2 linked regions of the Homo sapiens genome follow. The protein of the gene in region 1 interacts with the protein of each later gene in a pairwise test. Each region holds a gene or a part of one and is shown on either strand. Other genes may lie near its edges.

The links.
Region 2: the proteins of MGAT1 (region 1) and BRI3 interact in binary tests that used the Homo sapiens proteins (3 or more experiments, as listed by UniProt).

What each region holds. Positions count from the first base shown.
Region 1 is NC_000005.10:180,796,001-180,799,903, forward strand, and holds part of MGAT1 (alpha-1,3-mannosyl-glycoprotein 2-beta-N-acetylglucosaminyltransferase), read right to left. Parts: intron 1-3,903. UniProt on the Homo sapiens protein: Initiates complex N-linked carbohydrate formation. Essential for the conversion of high-mannose to hybrid and complex N-glycans.
Region 2 is NC_000007.14:98,284,548-98,288,450, reverse strand, and holds part of BRI3 (membrane protein BRI3), read right to left. Parts: intron 1-3,903. UniProt on the Homo sapiens protein: Participates in tumor necrosis factor-alpha (TNF)-induced cell death. May be a target of Wnt/beta-catenin signaling in the liver.

The sequences.
Region 1 (3,903 bases):
CCAGACCATAACTCCTTGACTGTCCTGCCTCTGGTCTACCCTTTACACCCCAAAGCTTCAGGCGTGCACCCTCTTACACCAACAGCTCTGCCAGTTGCCCTCTGCCTCACAGGCTACTCTCTAATCCTGGCCAAAACCTTGGGCCTCAGATCTAACCTCTGAGGCTCTGGGCTCTCAAACCAGCAGATCTGGTATAAAAGGGCTGATCCTGAAGGGCCTCTAAAGAGACATGGATTCTGTCTCCCTCCTGGGGAGACTTCACCAGCCCCTGCCAGCATTCACCACCAACCACTTGTCTTCTTCCTAGAAACCAACCACCCCCACCACGCCAGGACATCAGTCTTCTCAGAAACGTCAAGTCTGTTTCCATGTAACTGTGCAATTAAATTCTATTATATCAGGGCTCAAATATTATGTATCAATTAGATACATGTTGTCAAGTGACCGAGAAATTCAGGGCAAACGTCGTTTCAGTTGGCCTTACTGCTGTGCCCAGCTGGGGCCATACAGATGGATGAAGCTACTCAGAGCTGTGGGCCATATCCCCATATTTGATTTTTAAGAAAGTTTATGTGGAAGAAAAGAGTGATGCACAAAAGAGTTTCAGTTTTTTTTCTTTTTTTTTGAGACAGAGTCTCACTCTGTCTGTTGCCCAGGCTGGAGTACAGTGGCATGATCTCAGCTCACTGCAACCTCTGCCTCCCAGGCTCAAGCGACTCTCTTGCCTCAGCCTCCCGAGTATCTGGGATTACAGGTGCCTGCCACCACGCCCAGCTAATTTTTGTATTTTTAATAGAGACGGGCTTTCACCATGTTGGCCAGGCTGGTGTTGAACTCCTGACCTCAAGTGATCCACCCTCCTCAGCCTCCCAAAGTGCTGGGATTACAGGTGTGAGCCACTGGGCCCAGAAGAGTTTCAGTTTCTTCTTCGCTCTCCCCTCAGGATGTTGTCCATGTTGGAACTTTCCCTCCAATCTAATGGCCAGGATTCCCTGTCTCCCAACTTCCCACCTCCTAAATGACTGTGCAAGAAAAAGACTTTATATAACAGGATGGGGATGGAGAAGAGGGACTGAACTCTATTCAGTGAAGTGCTGCTCTGCATGGCTTAGAAGGGTGGGGCCCCACTGGGCTTGGTGGCTCAAGCCTGTAATCCCAGCGCTTTGGGATGCCAAGGCAGGCGGATCACCTGAGGTCAGGAGCCTGGCCAACATGGCGAAACCCCATCTCTACTAAAATAAAAATTCAAAAATTAGCCGGGTGTGGTGGTGCGTGCCTGTAATCCCAGCTACTCAGAAGGCTGAGACAGGAGAATCCCTTGAACCTGGGAGGCGGAGGTTGCAGTGAGCTGAGATGGCACCACTGCCTTCCAGCCCGGATGATGAAGCAAGACTCCATCCCCCACCAAAAAAAAAAAAAAAAAAAAAAAGGGGGGGGGGGCCCAGAGGGATAGCCCGTCCCTGACTCATCAATGACCTGCAGGCCCTTATGGCAAAGCCTCCTGGGACCCTTGAGATAACTTCTGCACCCTTTAGATGCCTTTTTACTCTTCTCCAGACATCAGAATTTGGTGGCCCACACCCACTACCTGATGCTTAGGACCTCCTGCCCCACCCTTCTAAGCCATGCAGAGCAAACCAGTCTTCTGACTGAGTTTTTACTTGGCAAGTCTGCACACACATGGAGTGGCTGCAGAGCCCACAGGAAAAGCTGCCCCGGCCAAGCCCTGGCCTCCACCTTAATCAATCCCTGGGCCCTTGTTCTCCACCCCACAGCCCTGTGCTTCAAACTTGCTCCTGTTGCCATAAGAGGACATGACACCCCTAGTTCCAGCCCACCTCCTTAGGCTCAGCCTGGGCCCCAGTGCTATTTTCCTACTGTTTATCCACGTAGTTCCTGGGATAGGATCCTCAGCTCTGCCTGGAAGTTAGTGCTGTGTGCACACACATGAACCAGGAGCCATACACCCTCTCACAACTGGCTGTGCCCAAAAGGATGATCAAGCCCAGACCTTGGCCAGCAGCGGTGACCTGCTTCTCCAGGAAGCACTGCTCAGGCCACCATCAGGAGAGTGCAGCAGCAACAAAGGCAAGCCAGACAGCCCAGAGGCATCACCCTACGTTTTGCCACATTTCTGAGACTCAAACTGGGTTGCTGTGAAGATCGGATGAGATGAGCCATGTTAGGTGTTTAGAACAGTGCCGGCATGACAACGTAAATATCGGCCGTTATTTCACTCCTTTCTCCCCATTTTCTTTGCTCCACTCTACCACACTCCCGTCTGGTACCCCAACAGCCAAGCCTACCGTCGGGGTCTTTGCATGTGCCCATGTGCCAGCTCTGCTCTTCCCTATCTTCTTCACCTGGCACACTCTGATTCGTGTCTCTGCCAAGATGCCTTCCTTGACGCCTGGGACCATGTAAGGTCCACCTACCCTTCACCAACAGCAACAAGCGCAACCACTTGCTCAACTTCTCTCAGGCCCCCTCAGCTGCAAGCTACATGAAGACAGGGATTGGCTCCACCAGCACTGCCAAGCCGCTGTGCTAGGGCTCTCAACATTCAGCAGATGTGCCTGGGATCTAAAAACATCCACAGTTCCTCAACTGTAACTGCCAAATCCAAGAAGCACTAAAACACAGAAGTTTTCTAAACTCAATTGGCAGTAAAACCTCATCCAGCCTCATTTGGTAAAATCTGATCTGATCTAATATGGGGCTATTTATAGTCTTTTCTCTCTCCTGCTGTGGCTATTCATACATTTTGCTACAGAAATAAACATGGTGGCTTATGCCATGCTGCTTCTGATCTTCCACTACAGAGTAAATTCACCAGATCATCTTTTCAAAATCCAAAAAATTCTCAATTCTGAAATACATCTAGGACCAAGAACTTCAAAACTATGAAAATGGAAGTACAAAGTTACTCATTGACTGCTAGCATCCCATGTCAAGCCCTCCAGCCCTTTAACCTGAACTCATTCCTTCGTAGGAAACACTGTTTTAAGTCTGGACTCTTGATGTAGTTTCCCAGCTGGTCCACCTGTCACTAATCTTGCTTCCCTCTCACAAACCTTCCCAACAGCAACAGCGCATCCTTCCTGACAAGTACACCTGGTCACGACATTAACTTGCTTTAAAAACCATCAGAGGCTGCACTGCCCACAAACTCAAACTCAAACTCATTATGATGACATCCAAAGCCCTTCAGACAGACTGTCTGAAACATCCCTTTTCAACCTTACCTCCAACCACTAACCCCATGGACCCTGCACTCTGGCCTCAGCAGGCTGCTTTTTCCCCAGTAAGCATATACCTGGACGCTGCTGTGTCTCTGCTCCAGCTGGTCCCTCATCCTGGAATTTGACCCACAGCGCCACCTGCCAGCCACCCACACATCCTTTCAGGCCACTTCAGGTGACTCCTTCTGTAACATCACAGACAGAGCCAGGCCTCCCTATGACTACACTCCCACAGCACTCTCTCCACGCTGTAACAGAATCTGTGGCCACGCTGACCTGACTCCCACCTTCCTCCTTAGGAAAAAAGACTCTATGACCTCTGTGCCCACCACAGTGCTTGGCACATGTATGAGGTTCAAGTGGCTGGATGGAAGACTGCTTGCACTATTACCGAAATCAGGGAGAAAGATGGCCAACGCAGCAGCAAGAGAGTGAAGTGTGACATTTTCCAGAGATGACCGCACATATCCCATTCCATATGCTCTTCTTACAAGTGATAAAGACACTCCTGCCTCCAGAGCTGAGGGTCTATGTTCCCTCCCTTTGGTTCTGGGAAGAGATGCTATGTGACTTGTGAGACTAACTCATAAAAGGCAGTAGTTTCCACCTGGTCCTCTTAAGATGCTGACTCCTAGGACCCTGCTATATGGACAGGACACTG
Region 2 (3,903 bases), on another chromosome or scaffold:
CACACTTGTTCAGCCTTGCCCAGGGCTGCCCCTGCCAGTCCAGACTGGGCAGGACACCTCCGCCCAGCCCTGCCGACTGCAGCACGCCCTGCCTGGCTCCAGGACCTTCTCCCCCAGGTGCCACAGCTCCCAAGACCACACAGTCGAGGTGGGGGAGCCTCGGGAAGGCCAAGCACCAGCTGTGTCCCCACAGATGGCCATGACAGGTTCCGGGGGAGCTGGAGGGAGCCAGTGGCCTCAGGCCTCTCAGGGGAGCTTCCTCTTCCCTTTTCTTCCTGGCATCTGCGGTCAAATCCCAGGAAACACACTGGCTGTATATTCTGGTTAGAAAATGTCCCATGAAAAAGCAGACAGGGAGGGTGAACCGGCTGAGAAATCCTTCTAGGGGAGAGGCCCGCACCCCCCAGAGTGGTCCCCAGTGTCACCGGGCACCCCTCAGCCAGCCCAATCAGTGACCATCTGAGCACCTCACCTCAGGACCAAAGCTGCTGAGAGGCAGGGCTGCAGGCAGAGCTGACTGCCTGTTCAAAGGCCCAGAGATGCCTGGGAGGAGGCTGGGCAAAGGGGTGTGGGTGGGGAGCCCGGCTGGAGCCCGCCCATGGGGCGCAGCAGAGACATCCAGGTGTGATGGTGCAATGGGCAGGGGTGGGGCTTCACAGTGCTGCCTGGGGGCCCCGCCCACACCAGCCTCCCACCTGCAGCTGCTGCTCGCGCCTGGGACCCAAGTCCAAGAGCAGCAGCGCCCTCCTGCTTCCTAATTCTCCATCCAGACCCAAAACCCACCTACTCTGTCAGAGCTGAGAAGTGCAGGAAGGCTGCTCACTCTTGCTGCACTCCCACTGCCACGGGCCAGGGCGCCGGCCCACCTGAGTGCTAGGATTTCCAGCAGCGCCAGCCCAGCCCACCCAGGCCCCGGCGCCTCTCTTCCCAGCACCTTGATTCCCAGCCCCGGGGCTGCAAGCAGCACAATGGGCCAAACCTAATGTGCTGACCCCACGGCCTCCCAGGCACAGGGAAACACCCTCCTTCCAACCCACGGAATTTCTGTCCAGACCCATCCCATCCTCAGCCAGAGCACAGGGCTGGGCCGTTTGTGCCACCCTGGCCTGAGCCCCTCAGTCCAGGGACCCACTCCGGCACCTCCTAAGGCAGCCTCCCTATCCCTGGTCCATTCAACCCCCACCCTCCTGCCCACCTCCACACCGCTTAAAGAGAGGGTAGGAGGGCCAAGGCCCCCGGGTCTCTGGGGAGAGCGAGCCTGTTTCCCTGCAGTGCCGCCCGGGAGCTGGACAGATCCAGCTGTCCCAGGAGGCTCAGGCCTCTGCCAGCAACAGAAGGCTGTGATCCAGACCTGAGAACCCCGGCCCGGGAGAACGAGCACTTGGGCCTGAGAGCTCTGAACGGGCTTCGAAGGCCCGAGGGCTGGCCAGGAGAGTTCGGCCCTCACCTCTGGCTCTGGGGTCAGCCTAAGGGTGGGCAGCATTCCCTACCCCCCAGGATTCCACAGCCGTACCCACAACTTCAAACGCCAAGAGGCGCTGAAGGCAGAACTCGCTGTCACTTGACAGCAAACTCACCTGGCAGCAACATGTGACCTGAACTGGTGTGTGGCTATTTATAGTCGTAATTTATCCTACTTTATCTGAATATTCATGTCTTGCTGCAGAAATATTAAAGTTTTAACTGCAGTACTGCCCTAGACCTCAAAAGGAGTGTTGGCATCATTTACTTTTTAAAACCCCAAATCTTCTGAACTGAGAAACACAATCCAGATTCTAGGTCAAGACTCCCCAAGCTGCAGGGCAGTCCTGTCCCCAGCACTGGAGGGCAGAAGGGGAACCCCTGCCCCGGAACACCTGCGGTCCCCACAGCCTCGAGTTCTCCTCCCTTCCAAACCCGGAAGAGCCCACCTGAGTTGGTGAGGTGGGTTTCAACCTTCTCAACCGCTCTGGTCCTGACCGGCTCTCTCTAGCCGCCCCTCCCCCATTCTTGTGCAATAAGCCACGCGGCCAGGGAGGGACCATGGCCACTGGCGAAATTAGGGAACTGACTAATTCCAAGAGCACTCCCTTAAGGCGACTCCAGTCCTGCAGTGAAAGTGGCCAGTCATGCCACTGTCATCCACTCAGAGCTGGGCCCTGGGACAGTAGAGGCCGCGGGGCTCCCGCCTCACCAAGGACAGAGGGGGCTGGCAGCAGGGCTCTGAGCTGCCCAGGGAGAAGGCCATCCTCGCCCTCCCTGTGTCCCCACAGGCACTTTACAGGAGGCTGAAGCTGAGGGTGTGTCCAGGGACTCCCAGCCGGGAAAGGCGTGGCTGGGATCTGAACCCAGATGGGCTCCCCAGTCACGAGCACCCATCCTGCAGGTCCCAGTTCTCCCTCCCAGGTAGCCCCCAAAGGCAGTGTCACAGGGGGCTGGCCCTAGGGCACCAAGCTGCCCTCTGCGCACATGGTGGCCTCAAGGCACCATCCACGCCCAGGAACAACCCCAGACCACCACCCCGCTGGAAGGCCAGGCCTCGCCAGGAAAAGGGGAGACGCAGGGCTTCCTCAGAGGGCTGAGGGCCTGAAGCCATGCTCAGCGCAGGGCGAGGTGGCCCCAAAGCAGCTCCAGCCAGGCTCTGGCTGTCCCAGGGTGTCCACTCCCCACAGGGGAGCTGCCTGGCTTAGGGACAGTTCACCAGGACCTCCCAGGGCCATTCCCAGCAAACCCAATGGCCAGGGCCAGCCCTCGCCTCCCCTGTGGAAGAAAGGCCTGAGAAGGTGCCCGGAGACTCTGCCTGCCACCACACCCACCCCAGCAGTGCCACTTGGCCCACAGCTGGGGGCTGAGCCCAAGGTCAGAGACTCAGGAGGCCACTGAGGGAGCACTTGGGCACCGAGGTCTGCAGCCCTGCCCAGCAAGCAGCCCAGGCCCAAGCTCCGGCCCATCCGCTGCCCCCACACCTCAGGCCAAGACTGTCAGGACGGGGACAGCCCACAGGCCATACATATGGGCAGAGCCATCCCAGCTAACTCAGCCACTTCCTCAACCAGGGGAGCTCTGGCTTCCAGGTCACAGGTGGTAGGAGGGAGCAGCCCCTCCACCTCCATCGTCTGGAAGCCCAAGGCTGTCACAGGCTCCTTCCCCTCCAGCCCCTCCCGGGCTCCACAGTCACCACCCCGTGCCCTCCACAGCCCACCTCTGCCCCCCAAGGGCCGTGGCAGCCTCCACGCTGGCCACTGAGCCGCACCCTGGACCTCTGAGCGACATCCGCCCTCCACAGCTGTTCTTTTCACCTTCCCTAGGAAAAGTGAAATCCTTTCCAGGATTTCCTCTCTCTCTGGTCACCCCCAAAACTAAATACCCAGTGACAGCCCAGCCAGTACTCATGGGGGCCTGGTGCAGGCCAGGGGCCTTCCCCACTCCTGCCTTCCCCGCTTGCAGGACGCAGGCTCTGCTCCAGCCCAGGAGAGCCTCCCAGCGCAGCTACCTCATCCTGCACCTAGGTACAACCACACCCCCAGCAAAGAATGACTGGCCTCCCTGGGCAAGGGAGAACCTGGCTTCAGGGAGGCCCAGGCCTTGGGCAGGGCAAGGCAGGGCAGGGCAGGGCAGGGCAGGGGTGAAGCAGGAGGGTGGGAGGAGCAGGGACATATCCGCCGCCAGGCTGCGGAAATGCTTCCTCATAAACGGCTAGAAAGGGAAGATGGAGTCAGGCAGCTTCAGCGAAGGCCTGGCCAGGGCAGCAGAGCCACAAGGGACACGGGCTTCTCTGGCCAAGCCTCACTCAGAAGGACTAACAGATGTGTGACTTGGGCAAATTCCTGCCATGCCACCAGGCAGGGAGGGGGACAGAGCCCGGCGGGCTGGACCTGGGGCAGGAGGAAGTGTGGTCATGTGAGTGGTATCCTGTCTCCCGGG